Homo sapiens: one gene and its partner. The protein of the gene in region 1 interacts with the protein of each later gene in a biochemical or structural test. Each region holds a gene or a part of one and is shown on either strand. Other genes may lie near its edges.

Evidence for each region. Proteins that work in one complex are often made in the same cells at the same time.
Region 2: the proteins of TJP3 (region 1) and PATJ form a complex in vitro, tested with the Homo sapiens proteins (2 studies listed by BioGRID and IntAct, with this or other methods).

The regions. Positions count from the first base shown.
Region 1 is NC_000019.10:3,703,333-3,712,078, forward strand, and holds the start of TJP3 (tight junction protein ZO-3), read left to right. Parts: upstream 1-5,051; 5' UTR 5,052-5,229; intron 5,230-8,746. UniProt on the Homo sapiens protein: TJP1, TJP2, and TJP3 are closely related scaffolding proteins that link tight junction (TJ) transmembrane proteins such as claudins, junctional adhesion molecules, and occludin to the actin cytoskeleton.
Region 2 is NC_000001.11:62,157,820-62,164,415, forward strand, and holds the end of PATJ (inaD-like protein), read left to right. Parts: intron 1-3,088; coding exon 3,089-3,235; 3' UTR 3,236-6,096; downstream 6,097-6,596.

The DNA.
Region 1 (8,746 bases):
CTGAGGTCGGGAGTTCAAGACCAGCCTGACTAACATGGAGAAACCCCGTCTCTACTAAAAATACAAAATTAGCCAGGCGTGGTGGCGCGTGCCTGTAATCCCAGCTACTCGGGAGGCTGAGGCAGGAGAATCACTTGAACCCGAAAGGCAGAGGTTGCAGTGAGCCAACATGGCACCACTGCACTCCAGCCTGGGCGACAGAGCAAGACTCTGTCTCCAAAAAAAAAAAAAAAAAAAAAAGAAGAAGAAGAAGAAGAAAGAAATGGTGAAAATGGGCCGGGTGCGGTGGCTCACGCCTGTCATCCCAGCACTTTGGGAGGCCGAGGCTGGCAGATCACCTAAGGTCAGGAGTTCAAGACCAGCCTGGTCAATGTGGTGAAACCCTGTCTCTACTAAAAATACCAAAAAATTAGCTGGGCATAGTGGCACAGGCCTATAATCCCAGCTACTCGGGAGGCTGAGGCAGGAGAATCACTTGAACCTGAGAGGCAGAGGTTGCAGTGAGCCAACATGGCACCACTGCACTCCAGCCTGGGCAACAGAGCAAGACTCGAAAAAAAAGAAATGGTGAAAATTGTGAATTGTATGTTGTGCGTATTTTACTACCATTTTTTGTTTTTTCTTTTTTGAGATGAGTCTTGCTCTGTTACCCAGGCTGGAGTGCAGTGGCGTGATCTCGGCTTACTGCAGCCTCTGCCTCCCAGGTTCAAGCGATCCTCCCACCTCAGCCTCCCAAGTAGCTGAGACCACAGGTGTGTGCTACCATACCTGGCTAATTTTTGTAATTTCAGTAGAAATGGGATTTCACTGTGTTGGCCAGGCTGGTGTCAGGTGATCTGCCCACCTCGGCCTCCCAAAGTGTGAGGATTACAGGCGTCAGCCACTGCAGGCGGCCTTGACCATTTTAAGGCTCCAGGAAGAGTTCTTTGGACGCAGGTCATGGACAGAGCTCCTGATTCACCCAGAATCTGTTTTGAAAAAAGATTTAGACCACTGGCTCTCAAGGTGTGGTCCCTGGGCCAGCCACATCAGCCTCACCCTGGGAGCTTGTTAGAAATGCAGGTTCCAAAGCCAGGTGCAGTGGTTCATGCCTGTAATCCCAGTGCTTTGGGATTGAGGCTGAGGCAGGAGAATCACTTTAGCCCAGGAGTTCAAGACCAGCCTGGGCAACATAGCAAGATCCCATCTCTACAAAACAAATTAAAAATTAGTCTGGCGTGGCCAGATGCAGTGGCTCACGCCTGTAATCCCAGCACTTTGGGAGGTTGAGGCAGGTGGATCGCCTGAGGTCAGGAGTTCGAGACCAGCCTGACCATCACGGAGAAACCCTGTCTCTACTAAAAATACAAAAATTAGTCGGGCATGGTGGCGCATGCCTGTAATCCCAGCTACTTAGGAGGCTGAGGCAGGAGAATTGCTTGAACCCGGGAGGCAGAGGTTGCAGTGAGTCAAGATCTCGCCATTGCGCTCCAGCCTGGGCAGCAAGAGCGAAACTCCTCTCAAAAAAACAAAAATAGCCTGGCATGGTGGTGCACACCTGTAGTCCCAGCTACTTGGGAGGCTGAGGTGGGAGGATCGCTTGAGCCCAGAAGTTTGAAGCTGCAGTGAGCTATGATCACACCACTACAGTCCAGCCTGGGCAACAGAGCGAGACCTGGTCTCAAAACAAACAATGAAAAGTAAAAGAAATGCAGGTTCCTAGGCCCCCACCCAGACTTCACACACCAGAAACTGGGCAGAGTAGGGTGGTGGGAGGGCACAATCTGGGTGTTCATGACTCCTCCCTTCCAGGCAAACTGGGTGCCAGATAAAGTTTGGGGGAAGGGGCCAGCCACGGTGGCTCATACCTGTAATCCCAGCACTTTGAGAGGCCAAGGTGGGCGGATCACTTGAGGTCAGGAGTTCGAGACCAGCCTGGCCAACATGGAGAAACCCCATCTCTACTAAAAGTATAAAAATTAGCCAGGCGTGGTGGCATGCGCCTGTAGTCCCAGCTACTTGGGAGGCTGAGGCAGGAGAATCACCTGAACTCAGGAGGCAGAGGTTGCAGTGAGCCGAGATTGCACCACTGCACTCCAGCCTGGGCGACAGAGCGAGACTCTGTCTCAAACCAAAGAAAAGGAAAAGAAATGCAGTTTCCCAGGCTCCAACGCAGACTTCACACACCAGAAACTGGGCGGGGTGGTGGGGGTGGTAAAATCTGGGTGTTCATGACTTCCCCCTTCCAGGCAATTTGGATGCCAGATAAAGTGGAGGAAGTGCTGGAGGTTAGATCATTGATGAGGATAATGAAGAGGAAATATACTTAAAAAAAATTACTAAAACTGGCTGAACAGTCATGACTTACAGACGCAAAAGTCAACATCAAAACAAGCAGTTAAAAGCAGCCTCTTGGCCGGGCGCGGTGGGTCACGCCTGTAATCCCAGCACTTTGGGAGGCAGAGGTGGGTGGATCACCTGAGGTCAGGAGTTTGAGACCAGCCTGGCCAACATGATGAAACCCCACCTCTACTGAAAATACCAAAAAAGTAGCCAGGCGTAGTGGCACATGCCTGTAATTCCAGCTACTCGGGAGGCTGAGGCAGGAGAATCGCTTGAACCCGGGAGGCAGAGGTTGCAGTGAGCCGAGATGGCGCCACTGCACTCCAGCCCGGGAGACAGAGTGAGACTCCGTCTCAAAACACAAAAACAAACAAACAAACAAAAAACTTAAAAAAAAGAAAACTAGGGCAGGGATGGGGTGACAGGAGGGGAGAGGCAAGGGACAGAGAGGAGGGGCTGGGGTCCGGGAGAGCCACCAGCCTTCTGTGCCTTCCCCGCATCCCCCCACGCCCCTGGTTGGCTGTCCCCATTACGCAGGGTGGAAAACCGAGGCTGCCCGGCGGGGGCCGGTTGCGTGGTTTCTGGCGCCGCCTGGTGGCCATAGTGGCTACTACCGTCAGCAGGAGGTACTGCAGGCTGGAGGGACCCTAGTCCATTCATTCCAAAAACATGTATTGAGCACCTACTGTGTACCAGGCACTGTGCTAGGCCATAGGACACGGCAGGGATGAGCACGACAAAGTCCATGACCTCTGTGAGGTGGCATTTTAATATTTATTTATTTATTTTTCAGCCAGCGTCTTGCTCTGTCTCCCAAGCTGGAGTGCAGTGGCGCGATCTCGGCTCACTGCAACCTCTGCCTCTGGGGCTCAAGCGATTCTCCCGTCTCAGCCTCCTGAGTAGCTGGGATTACAGACGCATGCCACCTTGCCCGGCTAATTTTTGTATTTTTAGTAGAGATGGGGTTTCACCATGTTGGCCAGGCTGGTCTCGAACTCCTAACTCAAGCAATTCTCCCACCTCAACCTCCCAAAGTGCTGGGATTACAGGGGTGAGCCATTGAGCCCAGACTTAATTTTTTAAATTTTAATTTTAATGTACTGGTAAAGATGGGGGGGTGTCTCACTATGTTGCCCAGACTGGTCTCGAATTCCTGGCCTCAAGTGATCCTGCCACCTTGGCCTCCAAAGTACTGAGATTATAGGTGTGAGCCATCATGCCCAACCCTTCCTGGTTAATTTTATTTTATTGAGATAGGATCTTGCTCTGTCACCCAGGTTGGAGTGCAGTGGCACAGTCATAGCTCTCTGCAGCCTCAACCTCCCAGGGTCAATTGATCCTCCCACCTCAGCCTCCTGAGTTTCTGGGACTACAGGTGTGTACCACCACATCTGGCTAATTTTTAAAAAAGTTTTCTGGGCTGGGCGTGGTGGCTCACGCCTGTAATCTCAGCACTTTGAGAGGCCAAGGCAGGCGGATCACCTGAGGCCAGGAGTTCAAGACCAGCTTGGCCAATATGGTGAAACTCCGTCTCTACAAAAATACAAAAATTAGCTGGGCATGATGGCTGGTGCCTGTAATGCAATCCCAGCTACTCGGGAGGCTGAGGCAGGAGAATCACTTGAAACCGGGAGGCAAAGGTTGCAGTGGGCCGAGATCAAGCCATTGCACTCCAGCCTGGGCAACATAGCAAGACTCTGTCTCAAAAAAATAAAAAAAAAATAAAATAAAAACAAAAAACAAAACAAAACCAACAACAGCCAGCAGCAACAACAAAAAAACTTTTCTAGGCCAGGCTCGGTGGCTCACGCCTGTAATCCCAACACTTTGGGAGGCCGAGGCGGGCAGATCACTTGAGGTCAGGAGTTTGAGACCAGCCTGGCCAACATAGGAAAACCCCGTCTCTACTGAAAAAAAAAAAAAAAATTAGCTGGGCGTGGTGGTGCACGCCTGTAATCCCAGCTACTTGGGAGGCTGAGGCAGAAGAATCACTTGAACCCAGGAGGCGGAGGTTGCAGTGAGCCGAGATCGCGCCACTGCACTCCAGCCTGGGTGACAGAGGGAGACTCCATCTCAAAACAAACAACAAACAAAAGATATATAAAAATTTTTCTAGAGATGGGTTTCACCGTGTTACCCAGGCTGGTCTCAAATTCCCAGGCTCAAGTGATCCTCCCACCTCGGCCTCCCAAAGTGCTGGAATTACAGGTGTGAGCCACCACACCTGACCCTTTCTTGTTTTTTAGATGAGGACAGCAAGAAGCCCCTGTAATTTGCCCAAAGCCACACAGCGGGGAAGTGGCAGAAGCTTCTGTACGTAGGAACCCAGTCACTTCGTAGCAGAGAGGCAGACTGCGCACAGATCTGCGTGGGGAAGGGAGTGCGCCAAGCCACAGCCTGATGGGCCGGCGTGCCTGGCAGGAGGCTCAGCAAGCACAGAGACTGGGCAGCTCCAGATGCAAGAAGCAGGAGGGAGGGGGACTCCGGGAGTGCGGTCCATTCATGTCTGAATGTAGCCAACGAGGGTTTCCTAAGCACCTACCATGTGCGGACGCTTGATACCAGGGCCTCGGCGGTGAGGGCACAGGCAGGAGCAAGCTCACCTCTGGGCAAGCAGGGGTTAAGGCCAGTTGCTCCCACGTGAGGGCACCTTGCGACAGAGCCACACACCCAGTCCTCCTGCTGGCCCGCCCCTCACCCTGGTCCGTCTCCCTGTGTCTGTGGTCGTCAGTTCCACTGGCAGGGGACCTGCCTCCCTGTTGCCACCACAAGAGAGGAAAAGTTGGTCAAACAGGTGGGGAGGCCAGAGCTACAAGCCTCGGGTTCCCTCCCCACCACCCGTGCCAGGCAGGCACCCGGGCCCTGGCACCTGCTGCCTGCCCAGAGGCCACCCAGCCTCCTAGACAGGTAAGTCCCCCGCCCCACTGTGCTTTTCCACCCAGTGTGCATTGTCTGAGCTGGCCTTCCCCAGCTGAGGGTCCTTAGACTCCCCCCCAACCTCCCCCACCACGAGCTGTCTCCCCGGCTCCTCGGAAAGCAGGAAACTGACACTCCTGCGTGGGCATCTGACATAGTTTCGTAGGGATTATCTGACCGGCAGTTACTGCACCTGGCGGCCTGCCCAGGACGCTGAGCTGGAAACTTAAAAGGGTCATTGTTACCTAGGTGGCGCAGGGACCGGGGAGGCGGCAAAGGGGCACAGGTTGGTCTCTGATCCCCCTAACTGAGGAGGGGAGGGGATATCAGTCCAGACGGAGCCTGGGTTTACCTCCTGCAGCCCGAGGCTAGGAGGTGACAGGTGGGAAAGGCTGCGACCTCACTCATCTCTGAGCCTCCTGGAACTTCTTAAAAGGCTCCCAAGTTTTGAAACAACTGCGTCTCCCGCCCCCCAACCCCTCACCCTGTTCTCACCGCTGGAACCTCCAGGAGCTTTGCAGGGAGGGATTGGGGTGGCCTTTCTTTTGCTAATTTTTTTTTTGAGACGGAGTTTTGCTCTTGTTGCCCAGGCTGGAGTGCAGTGGTGCGATCTTGGCTCACTGCAACCTCTGCCTCCACCTCTGCCTCCCGAGTAGCTGGGATTACAAGCGCCCACCACTATGCCCAGCTAATTTTTGTATTTTTAGTAGAGATGGGGTTTCACCATGTTGGCCAGGCTGGTCTCGAACTCCTGACCTCAGGTGATCCAACCCCCTCGGCCTCCCAAAGTGCTGGGATTACAGGCGCAAGCCACTGCGCCCAGACTTCTTTTTCTAATCTTTACTCCTCCGAGCAAAATCTCTGTGGGATGGGGCAGAGGGGAAGGAGGAAGGAGCGCTCAGAGCCAGAGAGGGGAGGGGTCGGCAGCAAAAGTGTTTTTCTGGGTCATTTGCTCCCAAATGGGAAGACCAAGGGAGCTTCCTCGTGAGCCAAGTGTCCGATTGCATCTCAAGTCTCTCTCCAGAACCAAGAGGGTCCCCCGGGGCCGAGGAGGCATGGATGATCGCATAGTGGGGGACAGAGCGGCCCGGCATTTGGGGTCACCTTGTGGCTGTGTGGCTGCAGAGCTCCCAGGGAGCAGGCTTGCTTGAGATTCGGGAGTCCGTGGGGGTGGGCGACATGGATCCCACCTTGCCTGGGTTTTGAGAGCAAACCCGTGGACTCAGTTAGATCTGGCTTCCACACCTCCCTTCTCTCCGGGCCTCTGTTTCCTGCTCTGTAAAATGGGGATATTGAGGGCCGGGCGCGGTGGCTCACGCCTGTAATCCCAGCACTTTGGGAGGTCGAGGCGAGTGGATCACAAGGTCAGGAGTTCGAGACCAGCCTGGCCAACATGGTGGAACCCTGTCTCTACTAAAAATACAAAAAATGAGCCGAATATGGTGGCAAGCACTTGTAATCCCAGCTACTCCGGAGGCTGAGGCAGGAGAATTGCTTGAACCCAGGAGGTGGAGGTTGCAGTGAGCCGAGATTGTGCCACTGCACTCCAGCCTGGACAACAGAGTGAGACTCTGTCTCAAAAAAAAAAAAAAAAAAAGGGGTGGGGGGATATGGAGTCACCAAGGCACAGGGCTGTTGAGTGCCGGATGTAATAAAGCGGGTAACAGATTCTCGGTCATTCTGGGGTCAAGACGAGCTATCCCGGTCCGAATCGGAGTCTGGTCTCATCAGCTTCCTGGTTTGTAGAGGATGAACCCTGGCTCAGAGAAGGACAGCCGCTTACCCCGGGCCGCACAGCCAAGTAGAAATGTCAGGCGGCCAAGAGTCAAGACGCAGAGGACAGGGAGCTGGTGGCGGGGGTGGTGCTCTGGAGGCTGGCCCTGCCCCCAGCTGATGCCTCAGGCTCAGCATCTCGAGAAAGTCCTGCCCCCTGGCTTGGTGCTTCCTCGTGGCCCTGAGTCCCGGGGAAAGTCCAGGGCAGGGAGTATGGGTACTTGTTCTTCCTCTTTAGGGCTGGCCAGGGGCCAGGGGAGCTGTGTTTGCTCAGGGTGGAACCTGACACCCTTTGGAATGGATTGAGGTTAGCGGAAGCCTAGGCTGGGGGGAGGGGTCGCCCAGGGAGCGAACGGGCATTTATTGTGCACTTACTGTATGCGCGAGTGTGGGGTCACCAGGCCTTGGAGATTCAGCAGTGAGCAAGGCAGGCCAAGCTTCCTGCTCTCGTGGGGCGCATATTTTGGTGGGGAAAGACAGACATGAAACAAGAGCGCAGTAATGGAGCCAATGGCTGCACAGAGGGTAACATGCGTGAGAGGCGCTTTGTAACTTTATTTTACTTTTTATATTTTTTTGAAACGGAGTCTCGCTCTGTCGCCCAGGCTGGAGTGCGGTGGCGCGATCTCGGCTCACTGCAAGCTCCGCCTCCCGGGTTCACGCCATACTCCTGCCTCAGCCTCCCGAGTAGCTGGGACTACAGGCGCCCGCCACCACACCCGGCTAATTTTTTGTATTTTTAGTACAGACGGGGTTTCACCGTGGTAGCCAAGATGGTCTCTCCTGACCTTGTGATCCGCCCACCTCAGCCTCCCAAAGTGCTGGGATTACAGGCGTGAGCCACCATGCCCGGCCTTATTTTATTTTTTTTTGAGATGGAGTCTCGCTCTGTTGCCCAGGCTGGAGTGCAGTGGAACGATCTCCGCTCGCTGCAACCTCCACCTCCTGGGTTCAAAGCGATTCTCCTGTCTCAGCCTCCCAAGTAGCTGGGATTACAGGCGCCCACCACCACGCCCAGCTAATTTTTGTATTTTTAGTAGAGACAGGGTTTCACCGTATTGGTCAGGCTGGTCTCGAACTCCTGATCTCAGGTGATTCGCTCGCCTCGGCCTCCCAAAGTGCTGGGATTACAGGCGTGAGCCACCGCGTCCGGCCAAAATGAAGGGAGAGCTTTAAATGCTGGCCTGAAGACATTTGGCTTTATGATATTAAAGGATATTTTTTCCCAAAATAGTAAAATCATTACTCTCATACAAATACAAAATGAGGCCGGATGCGGTGGCTCACGCCTGTAATCCCAGCACTTTGGGAGGCCGAGACGGGTGGATCACGAGGTCAGGAGTTCAAGACCAGCCTGGCTAACATGGTGAAACCCTGTCTCTACTAAAAGTACAAAAAAAAAAAAAAAGGTGCTTTATGTGTCTGCTTAATTCATTAATTAATATGGGAACCGGTAAGACTTTATAGCCTATACAGAGGGGAATTAATTTGTTTCCTTTCTTTCTTTTTTTTAAAAATTGAAAATAGAAATGGGGTTTTGCTGTGTTGGCCGGCCTGGTCTCGAGCTTCTGGGCTCAAGTGATCTGCCAGCCTCAGCCACTCAAAGTGCTGGGATTTCAAGCGAGAGCCACCGACCCGGCCTCAGCATTCTTGATTGCCTGTGTGTGTGTGTTCTTTCAGTTCTCCTCTGGACCAGACACGGTGGCTCACGCCTGTAATCCCAGCATTTTGGGAG
Region 2 (6,596 bases), on another chromosome or scaffold:
GACTCTGTCTCCAAAAAAAAAAAAAAAAAAAAAAAATAATCCAAGCCAGCCTTAGGTCTTAGTCCCTTCAGCAGCTGAATGTTACCCTAAGCCAATAAGAGATTGACCTAAACACTTCAGCAACTCTAAAAATTTCAGGAGCAGTTTTTCAGAGCCTATGAAATCTGAGCCATGAACTTGGTTGTCACTAGTGTTTTATTTTATTATATTACCACCACGTTGAGTAAATGCCATATGTCATACATTTAATCCTTAGAACAGGCCACAAGGTAGATAGTAGATGCCCATTTTACGGCATCTGAGAAGACTAAGTGACCAACTTGGGACAAATAGCAAGTGAGTAAAGAGCCACAATTACAAAGTAGGTAGAGGTTTTCAAGCCATGCATTTATTTCTTTTTTACCTTTTTCCCTGTAGTCTACAAATGCGGCATTGGTAAAGTAGGAGAGTAGATACATATCAGTAAGTGCTCATCAACCAAGCACTGCAACACTGGAAGAAGTCCAAATCCTAGAAAGTTAAAAAATCATCCTGGCTGGGCACGGACTCATGCCTGTAATCCCAGCACTTTGGGAGGCTGAGGCAGGTGGATCACCTGAGGTCAAGAGTTCGAGACCAGGCCGGTCACGGTGGCTCACACCTGTAATCCCAGCACTTTGGGAGGCCAAGGTGGGCGGATCACGAGGTCAGGAGATTGAGACCATCCTGGCTAACACGGTAAAAAACTCCGTCTCTACTAAAAATACAAAAAATTAGCCAGGCGTGGTGGCGGGCGCCTGTAGTCCCAGCTACTCGGGAGGCTGAGGCAGGAGAATGGTGTGAACCGGCGAGGCAGAGCTTGCAGTGAGCCGAGATTGCACCACTGCATTCCAGCCTGGGCGACAGAGCGAGACTCTGTCTCAAAAAAAAAACAAAAAAAAAGAGTTCGAGACCAGCTTGGCCAACATAGTGAAACTCTGTTTCTACTAAAAATACAAAAATTAGCCGGGCCTGGTGGCAGACGCCTGTAATACCAACTACTTGGGAGGCTGAGGCAGGAGAATCGCTTGAACCTGGGAGGTGGAGTTTGCAGTGAACCGAGATCGCACCATTGCACTCCAGCCTGGGCGACAAGAGTGAAACTCCTTCTCAAAAAAATTTAAAAATTCTTTCCTTGCATTACTAAAAAAGATAAATAGCTTAACATAGTTTTTAAAAAATTAATTTACACAGATATCTGAGATTTACTGAAGCCCTTAAATCTTAGCATGTAAAATTTAATAAAATCAACTTTGCCTAGTAATTCTGATTTTATCCAGTAAAATTACTTGTTTAATTTTGTCTTTAATACAGTTGACACATTACTTTCTTAAAAGATTTGAGTGAAGTTGCAAGTTTTGGGGTTTATTTTTGAGACAGAGTTTACTCTTTTTGCCCAGGCTGAGTGCAATGGGATGATCTCAGCTCACTGCAACCTCCGCCTCCCAGGTTCAAGTGATTCTCCAGCCTCAGCCTCCCAAGTAGCTGGGATTACAGGCATGCGCCATCACATCCAGCTAATTTTTGTATTTTTAGTAGAGACAGGATTTCACCATGTTGGCCAGTCTGATCTTGAACTCCTGATTTCAGGTGATCCTCCTGCCTTGACCACCCAAAGTGCTGGGATTACAGGCATGAGCCACCATGTCCAGCCAGTTGCAAGTTATTAATATTTAGTTTTGATATTTTGCCCACAGTATAGACCTGATTTCGAATACTTTTTTTTTTTTTTTTTTTCCTGAGACAGAGCTCACTCTGTCACCCAGTCTGGAGTGCAGTGGCACTATCTCAGCTCACTCCAACCTCTGCAGGTTCAAGTGATCCTCCTGCCTCAGCCTCCCGAGGAGCTGGGACCACAGGCATAAGCCACCACGCCTGGCTAATTTTTTGTAGAGACAGTTTCACCATGTTGCCCAGGCTGGTCTCAAACTCCTGAGCTCAAGCAATCCTCTCGCCTGAGATTCCCAAAGTGCTGGGATTACAGGCATGAGCCACTGCACCCAGCAGGTTTTGAATATTCTTTATTGCACATTCATTTAGAAATTCCACCATTCTCACGGTTTAGAAAACCTGTCTGATTCCCCAGCACCTCAGGACCTCCAAGCTGCACATGGACACAGATCTCAGGAGCGTTAGTGCCTCCTAGCTCGGCTTCTGATTGAGTCGGTCGAGGGCCAAGTGCCTGTGGGCTTTGGTTGCCCACTGAAGTTTGACCTCATTTAGAGGATTCTTCTGGCACTGACTTTTCAAGGGACTGAAACAGTTACCCCTACAGATGGTGAAACCTCCTGTAAATCATTTTTTAAGGTCTTTTCTTCCCTTACCAGTCCAAAATGTTTCTAGTAATATCGTGGCATTTTTAGATATGCAGCTTTAGAGTGAAAAAACCCTGAAGTTTCACTGGCTTTGTGCCGTTTTGAGGAACTATGCATGACTGAGTATATAATAAAAGTAGTCATTTAGAAACCTATTTAGATGATCAAAGATAAAGTGGAAGGTTTTGAATATATTACAAAATTTTAGAGATGCTACACTCGTATATATTTATATGTAGATAACAGCTTTATTGAGATATAATTCACTTACCATACAATTCACCCATTTAAAGACTACACTTATTTTTGACAGATCACAGTGCTGATAGCTTAATAATGCAATGGGAACTCTGTATAATGGTGGTATTTGCAGTAAGACTAACACCAGATTCAGTTCTATCTGCCTTTTTCTGTATATTACGTTTTCATGAATAGGACATGATATGACATCCAATTCCATTTAATACTAAATAGTGAAATAAGGTTCTACTTGTATTAAAAGCAGTGTATCAGTACATTTCTACTAGTATGTTATTTAGATTATCCATAATTATAGTTACTATTCAACCATTATTATTCAAACAGCATATCTTACTTTTTTCCTAATTTAAAACATTACCTAGAAAAAACTTAATTGGTAGTTTTTAAAGTTACTCTTTTAATATGCACACCAGACAGATGTTAGAGGTTTTAATATCAATTTAATATAAACTGTGTTTTACCCTGGATTAAACTGAAATGTTTCTTGTTTGTAGGGAGCAGCTGCAGATGACGGCCGATTAAAACGAGGGGATCAGATTTTAGCTGTTAATGGCGAGACCCTGGAAGGTGTTACTCATGAGCAAGCAGTCGCCATTCTAAAACACCAGAGAGGGACTGTAACCTTAACTGTGCTGTCATGAGCCTCGGGCCTGATCACAAGATAGATGTTGTTGTTTAGAATATCCACAGGCAGATGAAGTTCTGAGTGGGTATGAAAAGCACCCTCAACTAAAATGCACCTTCATTCTTATTTCTTGCCCTCTCTGCTCAGGAGAAATGGCTGAGGTTTCATGTGAATTTCCCAAATCAACAATCATCTCCTAATGTTTCCCAGTTCCTGTCACCTGTTGGCGAGGTTGATTTCTAAAACTTAAATGAGTCTACCTGTTTTGCATTTAATTTCAGTGTTCCGATTTCTTTTTTTTTTTTTTTTTTTTTTTTTGAGACGGAGTCTCACTCTGTCACCCAGGCTGGAGTGCAATGGCGCAATCTTGGCTCACTGCAACCTCGGCCTCCCAGGTTGGAGCGATTCTCCTGCCTCAGCCTCCCGAGTAGCTGGGATTACAGGCATGCATCACCACACTGGGTTTATTTTTGTTTTTTTAGTAGAGATGGAGCTTCCCCATGTGGGCCAGGCTGGTCTTGAACTTCTGACCTCAGGTGATCTGCCTGCCTTGGCCTCCCAAAGTGCTGGGATTCCAGGCGTGAGCCACTGCGCCCAGCCCAGTATTCTGATTTTAACCAACTGGTTCTGATTATATTTACCAAAACTGGAGTTAACTTCTCTTTCCTTATACTCTTCTCTCCCTATCCCCTACTCACACCGAGGCTTAACAGCAACCTCAGATCTCATCCAATGGACAGAAACAAATGTTAAGCAACTTGTCATCTCACTCATGATTTACTTATGCTAATTGTCTCTTCAAGTAAGCAAGAAAACATTAGCAGTGTAATTAATTTACCAGTGATCCCCAAGATGAAATACCAGATTCTCCTATGGGAAATTACTGTGCTGTCTTCTGTATGACTTATGGTCAAATAAGTCTCAAATTCATTTCTCTGGATAGATCTTTATATGCTAGTCATTGGTGATTTTGATGAGTCAATTTACAGACTGTAATCTTCTAAAAATTCTGAAAGACTAATTGTTTTCTGTGCCATATAAATGCATACCACTGAGCAAATGAACCTTATTCTCAGCAGGAACAACTAGCATACATGTTCTGAATTCTAACAGTGCTAAATTACATTCAAGTCCAGGAAGATCACCTGGAATTAATGGCATTTCAGTTGGCAGGCATCATTCCCACCCCTCGGTCTTAGGAAAAGGAGGTAGAAGCCCCAGAACCACACGGCAGAGATCAGCAAGTTTTGTCTCAAGTCAGACAAGGTCTAGGTGGCCTTGGCCTTATGCAAAGTGGGTGACATATTTGATTATATTTCCCTTTACCTCCATAGTAGTCAGGCCAGCAGCATGGACTGCAAGAACCTAAGGGAGCAACATACTTAGCTGCAAAGTGAGCAAATGAATTGAGCCTAGGAATATGTGATGAAAATGCATGGCTGATGTTTCCTGATCTCCAAGGAGACTCCCATTTGCTGAAGTTTTGCATGCTAAGAAATCAACTACAGCAGAAAATACAAGAATACCTTTAAGTTGATTATTGGCAATCTTATTCATATATTAGCAAGAAAAAGGGAGAGATGCTTACTGGTGGATGCTATAGAGTCCTCTGTTTTTAAAAGTACCATGGCCGGGTGCAGTGGCTCACGCCTGTAATCCCAGCACTTTGGGAGGCCAGGGCAGGCGAATCATGAGGTCAGGAGTTCGAGACCAGCCTGGCCAATATGGTGAAACCCTGTCTCTACTAAAAATACAAAAATTAGCTGGGTGCAGTGGCAGGCGCCTGTAATCCCAGCTACTCCGGAGGTTGAAGCAGGAAAATTGCTTGAACCTGGGAGGTGGAGGTTGCAGTGAGCCAAGTTCGTGCCACTCCACTCCAGCCTGGGTGACAGAGCAAGACTCTGTCTCGAAAAAGAAAAAAAACCATGAAGGATGAGTACTAGAGTCAGTAATAGAAGTAGTTCAGCATTATTTAACTACAACACAATGCTGCAAATATTTCACAGTAATTATCAAAATTTAATGGGCTCTAATTTAAAATGTTATTTAATAAGTATAGATTTTAATTGAGAATTATCTTTGAGTAGATGTAATCACAAAGTGCATTAACTCTTGTTGGAATATTTTATGGCTATTCCAAAGTATAGAGTGCCTAAATTTTGTGTTGAAAATGTCTTTCATGACGGTATTAAGTTTTCTGAAATTACACATGGCTTTTAAAATTTCTAATGTATCCAAGATGTGCAATGTTGTTAGGATCTCATTCTTCAGTGCATGAAAAGCTACTACCCTCAGAACATTTTGTGTTAATTGTACCTGCAAGAACACCTCAGGCAAGCCAAGAAGAAATGAAACCCAAATAAAACTTGAAAATGCACCTTAAAAATATATATACATATAATAGTTTTGAAATGGGATTCTGCTTTATTTTGATGGAATGGCCATTAAATACACATTTTGAGATAATACATTGTTGTGGTGTTTCTTTATACATTATCCTTTTAGGTCGTGCTAGTAAAAGTATATTGATGAAGGAATTATGATGCTTTATACTTCTTACTGCACTAAATTGATAGAACTAGTACTTGTCATAATCGGTTCTGTCTCCGCTCACATGACTAATACGTAATTGCCTTTCCAAAAAGATATTTTTGCCTCAGAACTTACTGACAAGCTGAGAGGCTATGAAGATGGAAATTTGTGAAAGAAGTAGTGCTCTTATATTTGGCCTCATCATTTGGGCCATTTCAGTATAGTAATGATATCACTAATCGGAATTAGCATGAGAGGGAAGTAAGCCAGGAAGAATAAAACTGCTGAATGTTTGTATGTGTAAGATATTTCCAAAGATTCTAAATAAATGTAGTTGCCTACAGAGCAAATGGAGTTTTATTATATATGAAAAAGTGTACTTTCTGGATCTAATTGTGCTTTTTCTTCAGCATTTTCTTCCCTAATAGAAAAAAAAAAAAAGTCCAACTTTTCACAAGGTTTTTTGGTGTCCTGTTAAAATCTGGAATCCATGGTGGCTCACGCCTGTAATCCCAACACGTTAGGAGGCCGAGGCAGATGGATCACCTAGGTCAGGAGTTCAAGACCAGCCTGGCCAACATGGCAAAACCCTGTCTCTACTAAAAATACAAAAATTAGGATGGGCGCAGTGGCTCAGGATCCATGCCGCCATGCCCAGCCAACCTCTAATGTTTCTTTCCTGGCCCTTTCATGCATGTGCAGGTGAGTATTTGACAAAGAGGCGATCTCCATGGCTCTGTCAACCTACAGCTCCCTCCTTTCCAGACACTACATGTTCTAGCCAACTTGGCTGGCCTCCCTGAACGTGAATCTCTTTCTCCTCTACTCGTGGACTCTGTGTGAGT